Homo sapiens: one gene and its partners. The protein of the gene in region 1 purifies or fractionates together with the protein of each later gene. This does not show direct contact. Each region holds a gene or a part of one and is shown on either strand. Other genes may lie near its edges.

Region 1 (4,198 bases):
AATCCTCCCACCTCAGCCTCCTGAGTAGCTGTGACTATGGGACTACAGGTGTATGCCACTTTGCTCGGCTAATTTTTTAATTTTTTAAAAGACAGGGTCTTGCTGTGTTGCCCAAGCTGGTCTCGAACTCCTGGGCTCAAGCAATCCTCCCACCTTGGCCTCCCAAAGTGCTGGGATTACAGACATGAGCCACCGCACCCGACCTTGAAGCGTTTGCTCTTGTGGTCCAGGCTAGAGTGCAATGGCACGATCTCTGAGTTTTGCTCTTGTTGCCCAGAGTTTTGCTCTTGTTGCTCAGGCTGGAGTGCAATGGCGCAATCTCAGCTCACTGCAACCTCCGCCTCTCTGGTTCAAGTGATTCTCCTGCCTCAGCCTCCCAGGTAGCTGGGGTTACAGGCGTGCACCACCACATCCAGCTGATTTTTGTATCTTTAGTAGAGATGGGGTTTCACTATGTTGGTCAGGCTAGTCTCAAACTCGTAAGCTCAAGTGATCCACCTGCCTTGGCCTCCCAAAGTGCTGGGATTACAGGTGTGAGCCACCATGCCTGGCCAAAGCTGGTTTTTAATCTGAACAGTGCCAAGCTAACCCATTTCCATTCATGACCCCTGCTAAACTCCACTGCTGTACTTTCTCTCCTTTTAGTTAACTTCTTCAGTTTGTGTTCATAGTACTAATAGACAAGTCCTGCCTTTCTTCTGCCATGGTTCCCATGAAGGTTGGTGACAGCAGTAAATTTAGCACAGAGAAATGCTCATAGATTTTTCTTTAATGCAGAGAGGGGTAGGTTCTGCCTCCTTCTCTTTTTTCATCTCCATCCATTTGAGTAATATAAGCATGCCTTAGGTAATGACAGTTAATTTAAAGATTGGTTTCCAGAAAGCCCCCTGGGAGGATACATATCCTTAAAATAGGATATTTGAGATATGGGCTAGGAAGTGGGAAGATGAGATATCTTTTAAAGGTAAAAATTTTTTGGAATGGCAATATCATTTTCCAGAAAGGACCCATTCCCTACCTTGCATTTGCAATTCTCTGATGCTTCTCACGTCTTTTGGGAAGATCCCAGGCAGCTGTTCCAGTCGGCAACTGCTATCTCTGAGGTCTGGGGGTGAGCAGAGGGGGAGGAGGGGAACCGGGGAAGGTTTGGGGAAAATCAGAATTTACTGGTACTTACTTTTTAGAATTCTGGGCAATGGAGAAGATATGAAAGATTGCAGTTCCTGCTCATAAAACTTGCAACTTGGGAGATCAAACACTCTCTAAAAAGACTTTACTTTTATTTATTTATTTATTTATTTATTTATTTATTTATTTATTTATTGAGACGGAGTCTCACTCTGTCGCCCAGGATGGAGTGCAGTGACGTGATCTCCGCTCATTGCAACATTCACCTCCTGGGTTCAAGGGATTCTTCTGCCTCAGCCTCCCGAGTAGCTGGGATTACGGGCATGCACCACCATGCCCAGCTAATTTTTGTATTTTTAGTAGAGATGGGGTTTCGCCATTTTGGCTATGCTGGTCTCAAACTCCTTACTTCAGGTGATCCACCTGCCTTGGCCTCCCAAAAGTGCTAGGATGACAGGTGTGAGCCACCACGCCCGGCCCTCAAAAAAGAACACCCAGCCAAATACATACAAAGTAGTAGTTGACCTAGTATAAAGAATACTGTGTACCAATCTATTACCCTTAGGACAAAGAAAGGTCAAATAGAGTTAAGAAAATTTACTAAGTTAATGAAAGTCTAACCAACCCATTTCCTTAAATACTGCTTATTTTCTCTTCTCCCTCCTATTCTGTCTTCTTTCTTGTATTAAATAAAGCTTTTGGAGATTTATATTGTCTGACCTTGGTATCTCTATAGGTTTCCACAGAACCATAGGTCTTAGTTATTTATGCTTTTTGGCACATAATTCAAAGGGTTGTGACATTTTTATAATTTGTCAAATTCGTTACTGCTGCACTTTGTGCCATTTGGTCTTAATTCTGATTAGCTAATTTTATTTTTTTATTTTAATTTTTTATTTTTTGAGACAGAGTCTCATTCTGTTACCTAGGCTGGATTTCAGTGGTACGATCTCAGCTCATTGCAACCTCACCTCCCAGGTTTAAGTGATTCTTATGCCTCAGCCACCCGAGTAGCTGAGATTACAGGTGCATGCCACCATGCCTGGCTAATTTTTGCACTTTTAGTAGAGATGGGGTTTCGCCATGTTGGCCAGGCTGGTCTCGAACTCCTGACCTCAGGTGATCCACCAATCTTGGCCTCCCAAAGTGCTGGGATTACAGTCATGAGCCACCGTGCCCAGCCTTGATTAGCTAATTTTAGAGATGAAATGTTTATGAAACTTTGAAAACTCATATTTTAAATAAGCAGTTACCAAAGAGCAGCAAATGATGCCATTCCACCCAATATCACCCTTTCCCTCAGCTCTCCCCACCCAAGAATATCACCGTCTAGCTATTTACATGTACCAACTTAAAAAAGGCAACATCTTATGAACAGTATGAATTTGGGAACCTTAGGTGATGACAATACTGAAACTCTAAAGAAAGCCATCCAACAGTGAAAGGACTTTTAATGTTAATTACATGAACAAGACATAAGAATGCATCACATTCTCTGAAGACCTCTCATCATGAAACAGACAGCTATCTCTCTGGAATGAATAAGTTGCAGTCCTTCTTAGAGGCGAGTGGATACATGGGATTAACTCTGGAAAGTATTGCTTGCTGGATATCAGCTACATCTCTATCTGGTGGAAGAGACCCCGAAACTCTTTCTAGGCCTCTCTCTGTATTTTCCAGGAGATTAGGCTAGAGAATTACATACCTTTCTTGTTGGCATCATAGGATGCAATGATTAGGCTGAAGACCAAGATGGTATCCATGTTAGCTTGAGCACATGCTCATTGCAGACAGACCACTGCTCATCTGTCACAGCCCTTGATAGCTCTGCCTCTAGTTGCTTTCACCACACGCAGCTGGAACCAAGTTTGACCCTGAGAGACTCTGATTCCACCCTGATTATTTTGCCCCATTTCCTGAAGACCCAGGAATAGATCTAATTGGAGAAAGGGCTAATTCTGCTTATTAATAATTCACTCAGACTTCTTCTGACTTCGCTGCCGGTGCCGACATAGAGAACTAGATTACCTAGAGGTTTCTCGAGCAGGAAGGCCATAAACGCCCATTGATATGCTTTACAAATACTTGCAGATAGACACGTAGACATTTACATGCATGCTCACTGACACAGGCACAGAGATTTATATACTTTCATGAAAAGATGTGGAGATTTCTAGTAAGGAATATAATTTCTAGAGCAGGAATTATAGAAATAGAGCAGGAAACTAGGACTAGGAGTCAGTACAATTGAGTTCTAGTACAGGCCCTTTTATGAGCTATCACCTTGAGAAAATTACTTGACTTCTTGGGATCTAAATGTTCTCTTCTATAAATTGAGAGTCCTGAACCATATGATCTCTTTTTTTTTTGAGGCAGAGTCTCGCTCGGTCGCCCAGGCTGGAGTGTAGTGACACGATCTCGGCTCACTGCAAGCTCTGTCTCCCAGGTTCACGCCATTCTCCTGCCTCAGCCTCCTGAGTAGGTGGGACTACAGGCGCCCACTACCATGCCTGGCTAATGTTTTTGTATTTTTAGTAGAGACAGCGTTTCACCGTGTTAGACAGGATGGTCTTAATCTCCTGATCTCGTGATCCACCTGCCTCGGCCTCCCGAAGTGCTGGGATTACAGGCATGAGCCACCGTGCCTGGCCTTTTTTTTTGTGAAATGGAGTCTCGTTCTGTTGCCCAGGCTGGAGTGCAGTGGCATAATCTTGGCTCACTGCAACCTTCATCTCCTGGGTTCAAGTGATTCTCCTGCCTCAGTCTCCTGAATAGCTGGGATTAAATGTGTGTGCCACCCTGCCGGCTAATTTTTATATTTTTAGTAGAGACAGGTTTCACCATGTTGGCCAGGCTGGTCTCGAACTCCTGACCTCAAGTGATCTGCCCCCATCGGCCTCCCAAAGTGCTGGGATTACAGCCGTGAGCCACCCCAGCCGGCCGTGAACCATATGATCTCTAGAATTAATCCAGTTATATATATAAACTCACATTAGCACAGACATACCTATTGAGTTTTGCACATCTTCACACTCCTGAATAGTGAAGTGAGTATTGGTGGACAACATTC
Region 2 (3,703 bases), on another chromosome or scaffold:
TCCTGTTCATTCCTTTCTTCCTCCTTGTGAAGACCAGTTTCTGGATTCCCTCTTTCCTGGGAGAGCCTTGGTCATTGTTACTTATTGAGTAGCTTCTCCAAGCATTCATTGTTTTTACATACCTTGTAATAGGACTTGATTGTAGTTGTTTTATCTCAGAATCTCATTTCCTTAAGGGAATGTGTGATATTTGACAGGATGCATAACTGTTGTTCATGCAGGTGTTTTAAGAAAAAACTTGGGCCGATAGAAGAGATAATAGTGTTTGTTTGCATTTTCTTTAAAGGTAGGCTTAATTGAGGGCAGTTGGACCTGCATCCTTTTCCAGTAGGTTGGAGAATCACCTACATTAGTAGAGCCTCATATATTAGTAACCCTGGTATCTGCCTGGGCATCTTTAGCGGGTGGGGGGTAGAGGATGGGTTTGGTCCCTTTACCCTATTCTGACCTGAAATGCTCTTCATCAAAGCTGAGTATGACAGTAAGCATAAAGACTGACTACATTACAAGCAGGGCTCTGAGCCAGAAGGTGGGGCCTTTGTATCCTGTTTGGAGTAGACTTCCGTGGTAACTGCGTCTAACGCTTTCTCACAGCCGCTCCTGACATCACTGGCCATAAACGGAGTGAGAACAAGAATGAAGGGCAGGATGCCACTATGTATTGCAAGTCAGTTGGCTACCCCCACCCAGACTGGATATGGCGCAAGAAGGAGAACGGGATGCCCATGGTGAGTAGGAGGCAGGCCCGGGTCTCTGGTTGCTGGAGTTTTCCCTGCAGAGGTCCAGACACGTGGGTCAGTTACTGTAGTAGCTGTATCCTCGGATGTGTGCATGGCGAGGGTCACCCTTTCTAGAGTCACGGTTTACAGCATGAATCAAGAGGTCATTGACAGTCTCTTCCAGCACAAAAATCCCTGTACGTGATTTGTTAAAGCTGTCCCTCTGGTAAGAGATTAGATTGCTCACTGTATTAGTCCATTCTCACTTTGCTCTAAAGAACTTCCAGAGACTGGGTAATTTATAAAGAAAAAAGGTTTAATTGGCTCATGATTCCACAGGCTTTACAGGAAGCATTGCCGGGGAGGCCTCAGGAAACACAGGAAAGATGATCTTTCCTATCTTAGACAACAGAGTGACATCTGGCCTGCTTTGAGTTTTATTGCTTTCAGATTACTGTAACTGAAGGTGAGGCATTGACAGGTAATATAGTTAAGATAAAGCTAAATCCAAAGAATTAGCCTCCCCCTCAGGCTTCTTTGATCCTTGAAACTTACCTATTTTTTAGACTGCAGTTGCTGTTTATTTCTTCTTAAGTGATCCCTGTAAGTAGAGAAACTTAGAATCATGGTGGAAGGTGAAGGGGAAGCAGGCAGGTCCTAGGTGGCTGGAGAGGAGGAAGAGAGTGAAGGAGGGAGATGCTACACACTTTTAAACAACCGGGTCTCATGAGAATTCACTGTCAGGAGAACAGCAAAGGGGATATCCGCCCCCATGATCCTGTCACCTCCCACAAGGCCCCTCCTCCAACACTGGGGATTATAATTCACCATGAAATTGGGGTGAAGACAAAATCCAAACCATATCACTTGCCTTCAGGATAGGACACTGAAAGAACCGAGCCTAATTCTCGTCCATTTATCCTGAAGAAAATACTGTTTTTGAAGTGGTCTTAGAGAACCTGCCTTGTTTTTTTAGTAGGAAACAAGGTACTGAGGGCAATTATTAGTACATTCCTGCAACACAGAACATACTGATAAGGAATTGGGGCAACCTGAGGAGGCCCAAGGTACTGAGGGCAATTACTAGTACATTCCTGCAACACAGAACATACTGATAAGGAATCGGGGCAACCTGAGGAGGCCCAAGGGCAGCCTTGGCAGCCTTAGACATTGGGAACCTGACGGTATTTGCCCCAGAAAATGTCAAAGAGAACATCTTTTCCGATCAGTGGGATGATTCATGATGTTGTTTGGAGAGTCAGAGCTTTAGAACCTCACTTTCTCTCTCATTATGATTGTTGACCCATTACCTTTTCTGTCAGAGAGCGTGTCAAGCGTTCCTCTGATCCCATGGATCCTCTTTGATTATCAGTCTTCAGAATCCAAAAGGACCTTAAAGATCATTAATCCATCTTCTTTGGAAGGGTTCCATAGTAGCCAAGATAAATTAGTGGCAAAACCAAGAGTTGTATCTAGTTTTTTTAAATTTCAAGTCCATTATTCTTCCTACTTCATGACATCTTGATAATAAAATGTTGAGTTGTGATAATGACTCCAACATCAGCGATGATTTCAGAGACCCGTTAACGAGGAGCAGGATGAGGATTGCCGAGGTGAAGATGCTGAGTCTTTTTTACAAGACACTGAACTTTCTAAGGCACTGGAGAGGAAATGTCCACTTCTCTCTGCTGGTCACTGGGAAGGAGTGCCCTTGAGCTTTTGCCAAAGCAGGTTGGAATTAACGCAGTATGTGTTTTAATCTGAAAGATGAAGCTTGAGGCATCACAGACTAGCTGTTTTAAAAGCTTACGAGTTCCCCATTTCAGATGTACCTGCACTCAAATGCTGACAAGATTGTATGCCATATCTAGAATCATTTCCAGGATAATATTCCCCTTTTTCTCTCCTATTTCTGATTGTGCTTTAGTTGTTGCAGGGTAAAGACACATGAGTCTGTTTTTTCCCTGCCGGGATCTCATGAGCTGAGTGCAGTGAGCCATCCCGCTGAGTCCCGACCTCTGCCTGTGCACTCTTGCACCTCTGCCTTCACACCCATGCGAATCCCTGCCTGCACTGCTCCTCCCTGTTTGATCAGCTGTCCTCCTCCACAGTCTAGTGCAAATGTTAGCTCATGTGTGAAGCTTTCCCTGACTCTTTCCAGCAGTGGCCACTCACTGTGCCCTACAGCACTCTATACACACGCTCTGTTGGGGCTTCTTAACACATTCCTGAAATCAGTCATCCCTTTTTGGATGTCTGGTTCCCTTTTGAGGCCAAGCTCCTTATTCATTTCTAGGTCTGTCTTCTCCCTATCTCACCTTCTCACTCCCACCTGCCCTTAGTAGGATATAAAGCATGCAGCATATTTTAGTAAATATTTGTTCTCTTTTATTTGTTTGTTTTGTTTTGTGTTAAGACAGGGTCTTGATCTGTCTACCAGGCTGGAGTGCAGCAACCTCCTGGGCTCATGTGATCCTCCTGCCTCAGCCTTCTGTGTAGCTGGGACCACAGGTGTACACCACTATGCTCAGCTAATTTTATTTTTGATTTTTTGTAGAGATGGGGTCTCAGTTTGTTGCCAAGGCCAGTCTTGAACTCCTGGGCTCAAGCGATCCTCCCACCTTAGCTTCCTAAAGTGCTGAGATTACAGGCATGAGCCTCTGTGCCCAGCCACAAATATTTGTTGATTGATTGAATAACCTTTCCTCTAACCTCTAGTCCTTAAATGAAAGGAAAGTTATGAATTTCCCCCAGTCTGACTAGGAGTGAGTTCTTAGCATTGTTTGTGGAGGAAGTTTAAGGAGACTTCCTCAGAACTCACCAAGTGTGAAGTCAGTGTGCTGACTCTGAGGTCATCAGAGAGGCCTGAGGTCCCCGAGGCATGCCTGACTGTAGGGGTTGTACCCCTCCTTCTGCCGTCCTCTTTCTGCTGTGGTTTCTTACCTGGTGTTGGAGGCAGCATTTACTAGGTTGTTGGACTTTTC
Region 3 (3,703 bases), on another chromosome or scaffold:
CCCTCCCGAGGCTTGTCCTGAAGTCTTCAGCTGGACTCCAGCTGGACCCCAGAGTTCACAGGTCAGGACCAAGCTCGACCGGTGAAGTCAGAACATTCCGTTCGGCCGGGGGCTGAACCCATGTGCCTCTCTGGATGCTTCCCCAAGCTTGCCCGGACTCCCGCAGTGCTCCTGTCTCCCACACAGGCGGCCCTCACAATGCTGGGTGTCCCTGGATCCCACGGGGAGGTTGGAAGCCCCTTTGTGATTGGGGCCAGAAGTCTACACTGAGGGTTGGGGGACAGTCATTTGTTTCCTGCCAGAGAAGGCAAGAGCTGCAGAAGGAGAGAGCGAGGGAGCAGGAAGCATAATGACACTAATTATCCAATTACAGCGGGTGTGCGAGCTGCATAGCAGCGTGAGCCTGGCCAGCCACTACCCTGCCCCTACGTGCTCCCCACGCCCCTCCTGCCAGCCCGGGCCTGCCCAGCAGCCCCGAAGGCAGGGACGGCATGGGGACCTAGAAACGCTGTGGCTGTGGCCAGCGTGAAAGACTCTAGCCTACAAAGGGACGGAGACCTCGTGTTTGGGGTCCAATGGGAAGCCGGGTCCCTGTCCTCCCAGCCCTTCATAGCCAGAGAGCACGTGGATGGGAGGAGAGGTGCCCCAAGTCGGCCCGGCTCTGCTGTGGTACCTCGGTGCCCGTCCCAGCCCGCTTCCAATCTCAGAGCCAGCTCTGAGGACCGGAAGCCGTCGGGGCCTAAATAGGTAATTAAGGAAATTACAGGCAGCTGGAGGCCATGGGGCTGTGGGCCCTGGGCTAAGTCCTTCCAGCTTGGACAGGCAGTGACTAAATAAGGAGCTACCAGGACACATACACGTGTCCTCCTAGGGAACGAGTCCCATGGGGCCCCATTAGGAATCCTGGCAGGGGCAGTAGAGAGGGCATCCTGGTTTCTGGAAGCAGGCCAAAGTCCTTGGGAGTACAGGCTGGGGGGATGCATTGGTGTCAAGGTCAGAGGCCAATAAAAGGATCTGGGAGGCAGACCTCCAAATGGGGGCTCCAACTGAAGATGGGAGTCAAGCCTGCCCTTCTGTGATCTAGACCCAAGGAACGAGCACACCGAAGTATCCGTGCCACTCTCCCCAGCTGAGGGGGCAGGATGCCTGCTGCCAAATGTGGTGATGGAGGAAGAGCCAGTGGCGAGGATGCCCAGAGAGAGGGTACCTCAGAAGCTGCAGCCGAGGCTGCAGGACGCGAAGGTCATCAAGGGCTTGGCTGCTGTCTGAATCGCGTGAACTGAGCATTGCTGGTTCATTTTTGAATTTTGCCTAAGACACTATTTCTGAGCGAGGAACCCGGCATACGAGCCCAAAGCTTTTCCAGCAAAGCCCAGAGGAAGCACCACCAAGTTCCTGCCGTGCTCCAGGAGTGCCTGAAGGGAGTGCAGAGGCAGAGGCCCCCTCTCAGGCCGGGACCCAACACCAACACAGGGCTCCGAGTCTCTCCCTCAGTGCGCCCCACAGCCCATCAGCTCCCCCTACCCTCCCACCACCAGCTGCTCCTCCAGTTCCTGACCCTCTTATCATCATCTGTCATCAGCACCATTCCTCCCGCCCCCTCTGTGCTCATGGACAGATGCCTGCTCTCCCCACTGGGAAGGCACCGGGAGAGCACAGCTGGGCTGGGGACAGGACCTGAAGGGGTGGATTTCTGCTCTGTGTGCTCACCCCCTCCCCTCCTCCCTTAGGGGAGACCCCAACCCTGCCCGTCTCCATCTCAGATACCCCCTCCCACGATTGTGCTATAGCCCAGCTTCCTCCTTCGGGGAAGGGTGGATGGGGCGCAGAGGGCCAGGCGGTGGCCTGGGAGCCCTGACCCACCCCATCCCACCTACAGACACAGCCACGAGTGCCTCCCTAGGGGCTACCAGGGCAGGCGTCTGGGGCAGTGGCCCCCAGGTCAGCGCATTCTTACCCTCTGGCCCCATGGATGGGTTACAAGGGGGGACTCTTGCTCCACTCCCCAGGACAGAGGTTTCCAAGCCTAGCTGCTGGTCACAGTGTTGTGGGCAGATGAACCACAGGCCAGGAGGGAGAGATGAGACTAGGTGGGAGACGTGCCCTACCCGTCCACAGCCCTCCCTCTTCTCCTGCACCAGACGTGGGACCATCTGCTGGCAGCCGCCCTCTGACTACAGGAAGGTACCCAGAGACCCCAGGAGCCAGAGGAGCCAGGACCAGCTGCTCCTGAGCCCATCTCTCCTGGGCCTGTGGCTCCAAGCCAAGATGTGGCAGTGTCTGGTCCTGGATGCTTCCAGGAGAAATGGAGCTGAGGCCCATGGTGGGGGGCGGAATGGACCCTTGTGCCTGGTGAGCCCTTGCTCTGCCCGAGAATTGGGGCTGGACACACTCTCCTGCTCCTGCTGCTCTTTGAGGGAGCCAAGCGGTTACTGCCGGGCTGGTCCAACCTGGAGAAAGGGCCCCTTCCCATTTGGTCACGCCCTGTGCCACCATCACACCCCTGGCCCGCAATCTGTGGGAATGTAGGTTCAGTTTCGAACCGGCCACTCCATGCGCCTTAACCCGGTTCAGGGTTTGATTTGAAACGCCGGAGTGCAGGGAATTCTGAGTGTCAGGACAGTGATTTCCAAAAGAGCAGCAGAAAGGCCTAAGTCCTGTCATTTGAGGTCATCTTCTGCCGGCCCACAGTGGCTTCCCAATCTCCCGCGCTCTCTTGTACTGCCGGCTTTGTTTTCGTGTTTCTCAGTCAGGAGGCTGTGGCGTTCCCAGGGCCGTCTGGCTATCCTCAGCTGGGGGCCTTCACTCAGGATGGCGCTGTACTGCCCACACCCGCCTCCCATCTGCGGAGAGTCAAATCCACAGCATCTGCACAGAGCCAGCCGCCACCCCACCCCATGGGGACCGGACTCATCTGCGGCTTCGGAACTCTGAGGATGTCCAGAGAATGTATCACCCAGTGCTTTATCTTGGCGGGGAGGGAGGAAGGGGGTCTTGACAAAGTGGTTCTGAAGTCCACTGGACAGAGAAGCAAGCTTTAGGATTGCTGAGGTGGGGCCGGCAGGTCAGGTATTAAATGATACCAGGTACAAGAGGCAAAAGCACATCACCGGTACAGCAGCACACAGATGGGCCCGTGGGTCAGGACAGGCAGCCAGCACCAGGTCTGACTGCAGACCAGTGTCAGTGCGTGCAAATGAGCCAGGGAACAACCGATTTGCTACTAGAGATGGGGACAACTGGTTAGCAATCTGCAAAGGATGCACCTTAGATCCTCACCTCAAACTATCCCCTAAGACACATCTCATTTGGATTCAACAGGTTTGGCAAATTACAGCTTAAGTGCCAAATCTGGCAGCCCAGTGTTCTTGTGAATAAAGTTTTATTGGGACACAGCCTCACCCCCTCATTTCGCATTGTCTGTGGCTACTTGCAGGCTACCATGCAGAGTTGAGTAGTCGGGACAGAGACTATGTGGCCTGCAAACTGGAAATCTATTTACCATCTGGCCTTTTGCAGAAAAAGCTTGCTAATCCCTAAATTAAAGAGTTAAGTATCTTAAAAATGCAACTACACCACCCCAATACACACACACACACACACACAGACACACACACACGAAGACACATGGAAAACTCAGAAATGAACAGCTCTCAAATTTCCGAAAGGGATTTTCTAAGCCTAGAAACAATGGAAGAAATCA
Region 4 (3,703 bases), on another chromosome or scaffold:
TAGCTCACCTGCTCCAGGAAGCCTGCCCAGATTTATGTCATCAGGCTCTACTTTCCTCTCCGTTTCAGACTTCCCCGCACCAGGATGCTCAGCTGGCACAGAGCTCTTGTATACCTGGTATATCTGCCTAATGATTCCTTGACGGGATATTCCCTCCAGGCAGAAAGCAGCCCAAGACTCCACACACAGTGCCCATAACTGATTAAGAGAGGAGAGGGGGCAACCAAGGCCATGGAGCGGGAGAAACTTTGCCACCCCTCAGCCCTGGGAACAAACACTTCTCCCTGTGTCCCCCACCGCCATCGTCTTAGGCCCCGCCTGGGCCCCTCTCCCAGCATGTCTCTGTTGCTTCCCATCTGGTCCACCATCTGTGGCCACCTGCCCCCTCTGCTGTTGTCCCCCATCCCCAACAGTCAACCCACTGCTCTCTCCTTTCTATATCACCCTCCCCTGCCTTGACCTAGGTCACCCCTCAGGTGCAAAGGCAGGATGGGAACAGGGGTGGGGAGTACGTTGCCTGAGCTGTCTTCCTGGACAGAAAAGGAACAGCTGGGATGGCCTCTGACCCCAGGAAATGCCACCTGTGTCCCAAGCTTAGCCAGGCACACCTGGAAAAGTGCCAGGTCCCGGTCAGCCTCCCAGCCTCTCTTCCCCTGGCAGATGTGCCAGCGGAGACTGGAGGCCAAGAGGGCTCTGCTGTTCTGGGAGCTGCCCAGACCATGGACAGGAGCTGCTGCGTGTCTGAGCAGAGGAAGAAAGAGGCGAGGAGAATTCAGCCTCCAGGGGAGCCATCGGCCCAGGCTGGGGCAGCTGCAGCCATAGGGAAGAGAGTGGAGGCACAAACACGGAGACCAAACAGGGGAAGACAAAGCCTCAGGAGAGGAGCCAGCAATGGGCAAGTGGGAGAGCCGGAGAGCCGCAGGAGCAGGGAGAGGGCACCGGAGAGAGGCAGTGCTGCAGGGCTCCGCATGGGCAGGGGCGGGAAAGAAAGAAGAGACAAAGAACAAGAGGAGGAAAACAAAGGGGCAGTGGGAGTCAGCTCCCCCTCACCCCGGCCTCCCTGAACTTTGGGGTTGCCGTGGTGACTGCCTCCAAGGGTCAGGGCCGAAGGGAGAGGGTGGGGCCAGAGCTGCCGGGCCAGGAGGAGCCGTCCTGGATGTTGCCCCGAGCCTTCTCTAGACTAGGGAACCAAGGTCTAGGGCTCTGCCCTGGTGGGAGACCGAAGGCTTAATGGGGGCGCTTCTCTGCCAGTGCCTGGCCACGCTCACCAAAGGCAGGCTGGGTGTGGAGGACCAGAGGGAGAGGCCCTCCTTCCCACCTCCTTCCCACTTGTCTCAAGTGCCCAGGCACAGTTGAGGACACAGGAGCTCCAGCCTCCCTCTTCCGCCTCCTGGAGGGGAAACTGAAGTCTCAGGAGGCTCAGAACCTCAGCCACAGTCCCTGAAAAGCTCCTGCTTCCTGGTTCCTGTGGCTACTTTGAAGGGTGGGGCAGGGAGGCATCTGTCCAGCAAGGACCCTGAGTGAGGCCACGCCCTGACTCTGGCATACCCCTCCTTCCCCTTCAGGCCACACTCCCTGGGGTGGGAGTAGGGGCCTGCCAGCCTCTTCTTTTCCTCCCTTCCCTGATGGATTTGAAGGCTGCCTAGAGGGGATGTGACCTGATCCACCCCTGGGGTGCAGCTAACAGCATCCCCTCATGAGGGTCTCAGTTGTTCCCAGGCTTGGGGAAGGCACTCAGCAACTTGGGTGTGGTCTTCTCCCTGCTGCTACCTCTGGCTCCCCACAGCTGATAAAAAAAGACAGAATACTGTCACCAACCCCCTCCAACTCTCCTCCCCCAGCCCTGCTGTCCAGGGAGTCTGTAGGCTGAGTGCTTGGCCAAGCAGCAGGAATGCCCCAGCCTGGGTTCCGGCCAGGCTCCCACGCCCTGGGACTCTGTTCTCTCCTCAGATAAGGTGCCTTGGGGTCTCTGCCCTCAAAGCTCACCAGTCCACTGGCCTGTCCTGGTCCCTACACTCCATTCCTGGAGCTTGGGCTGGTCACAGCTAGCAGGAAAGGAAGGCCTGGCACCCTAAGAACAGCCCATGAGGTGGCAAGGGGGGCCCACGAGGCCTCAGCCTGCCCCCCAGCTTCATTGCAGCCCCTCCTCCAAGCCAGACCCGAACCACGGACTCTGAAAGTGGGGTCTGTTTGGACAGACAATGAGCTCTGGCCTCACTTCCTGTGGGAGCTCTGAAGGGGGAGCCAGGCCAGGCTCTTTCTGCCTGGAGGGAAAAGAATGCGCTAGACAAAGTCCCTGTCAGCCGATTCTGCAGCTCAGCCAGGAGGCAAAAGGGGCCAGAAGAGGACTACAGGGTCCTGACCCCTGGGTGGCGGCAGCCCTGTGCTCCCGTGGTCCCCAGCTCTGCCAAAGGCTGTGTGAGACTGCAGGAATATCTTGATGGGGGTGAAGGGGCCCTGGCCTCGCCTCCTCTCCTGCGCCACAGTCCTCTCTGCCCTTCCCCCAGCTCTCCTGGCCCCCCAGGCTTCCACGCGCCTTTTTTCACAATTCTTGGCAGCCATAGCCGGGGCAGCCTCACAACACTTCCCCGACCACGTCACAGGCTGGTAGACAGTGGGGGCAGCCAACCGAAGCAGCCCAGCCCAGCCCAGCAGAAGGTGGGGCCTGCACCAGCCGCCAGGGTTCCTGGGGCTTCTTCCCAAGCTGGCTCTTGCCCCTCCTGCTCTGTGCCAGGCACTGGGCAGGGAGGTGGATCTGTAGCTGCTTCCTGGATCGCACCCTACCTCCAGTGGCTGCCCAGACCATCCCCGCGAGCTACCCCCACCCCAGCGCCACCTGGGCCCTTCCTTACCTGACACCAGCACGCTCATGATGGCCTCCAGAGGCCGGTTGTTGTCCAGTGCGCGGCTTAGCTTCAGCTCACCCGTGGAGGCATTGAGCAGGACCAGGCTGAGTTCATTTCCCCGCTCAAAGCTGTAAGTCAGACTATCTGAGATATCAGGGTCATGGGCAGGTACTCGGCCAATGGCACCCCCAGGGAAGCTGCTTGAGCGATTGGTGACATAGTTGTTGAAAAGGATCTCAAAGTTGCCCAGCACTGGTGGGTTGTCATTGCGGTCAAGGAGGCGGACGTGGACTGTAGCCCGGCTCACCAGAGGAGCTGACGTGGCCTGGATGACCAGGACGTACTCAGGCCGGTCCTCGTAGTCTAAGTCTACCAGGGCTGTCAGCTCCCCGGAGAAGATGTCCAGCTGAAAGACCTCAGGGATGTTGCCCTCCACAATCTGGTACATAATCTGGGCATTGGTGCCTTCATCGGGGTCAGTGGCTGTGACCCGGGCCACGGCTAGCCCAATGGGGCTGTTCTCTTCCACAAACACATCAAACTCATCCTGCTCAAAGACAGGGGGATTGTCATTCACATCCAACACAGTGACTGTCACTTCCATAGGTGTGCGGGCTGGGGGCATCCCCTTGTCCACTGCATATGCCCGCAAGACATACTGGGCCACGTTCTCTCGATCCAGCCTCCGTAGCGTTCGCACGATGCCTGACGTGGACTCAACAATAAAGTCACCGTCTCCATCGTCGCCTCCTTGGAAGGTGTAGAAGACCCTGCCATTAAGTCCAGAATCACGATCAGTGGCTGAGATCTGCAGGACGCTAGTGAAGGGTGGCACATCCTCATAGACACTGCCCTGG

What was found. The genes of interacting proteins can lie anywhere in the genome.
Region 2: the proteins of C17orf78 (region 1) and NPTN purify together in Homo sapiens (affinity purification with mass spectrometry; one large-scale study listed by BioGRID and IntAct). This does not show direct contact.
Region 3: the proteins of C17orf78 (region 1) and ATP2B3 purify together in Homo sapiens (affinity purification with mass spectrometry; one large-scale study listed by BioGRID and IntAct). This does not show direct contact.
Region 4: the proteins of C17orf78 (region 1) and CELSR2 purify together in Homo sapiens (affinity purification with mass spectrometry; one large-scale study listed by BioGRID and IntAct). This does not show direct contact.

Annotation. Positions count from the first base shown.
Region 1 is NC_000017.11:37,374,786-37,378,983, reverse strand, and holds the start of C17orf78 (uncharacterized protein C17orf78), read right to left. Parts: upstream 3,000-4,198; 5' UTR 2,892-2,999; coding exon 2,834-2,891; intron 1,106-2,833; coding exon 1,019-1,105; intron 1-1,018.
Region 2 is NC_000015.10:73,570,687-73,574,389, reverse strand, and holds part of NPTN (neuroplastin isoform b precursor), read left to right. Parts: intron 1-594; coding exon 595-728; intron 729-3,703. UniProt on the Homo sapiens protein: Probable homophilic and heterophilic cell adhesion molecule involved in long term potentiation at hippocampal excitatory synapses through activation of p38MAPK. May also regulate neurite outgrowth by activating the FGFR1 signaling pathway.
Region 3 is NC_000023.11:153,524,142-153,527,844, reverse strand, and holds part of ATP2B3 (plasma membrane calcium-transporting ATPase 3), read right to left. Parts: intron 1-3,703. UniProt on the Homo sapiens protein: ATP-driven Ca(2+) ion pump involved in the maintenance of basal intracellular Ca(2+) levels at the presynaptic terminals. Uses ATP as an energy source to transport cytosolic Ca(2+) ions across the plasma membrane to the extracellular compartment.
Region 4 is NC_000001.11:109,252,539-109,256,241, reverse strand, and holds part of CELSR2 (cadherin EGF LAG seven-pass G-type receptor 2 precursor), read right to left. Parts: coding exon 2,853-3,703; intron 1-2,852. UniProt on the Homo sapiens protein: Receptor that may have an important role in cell/cell signaling during nervous system formation.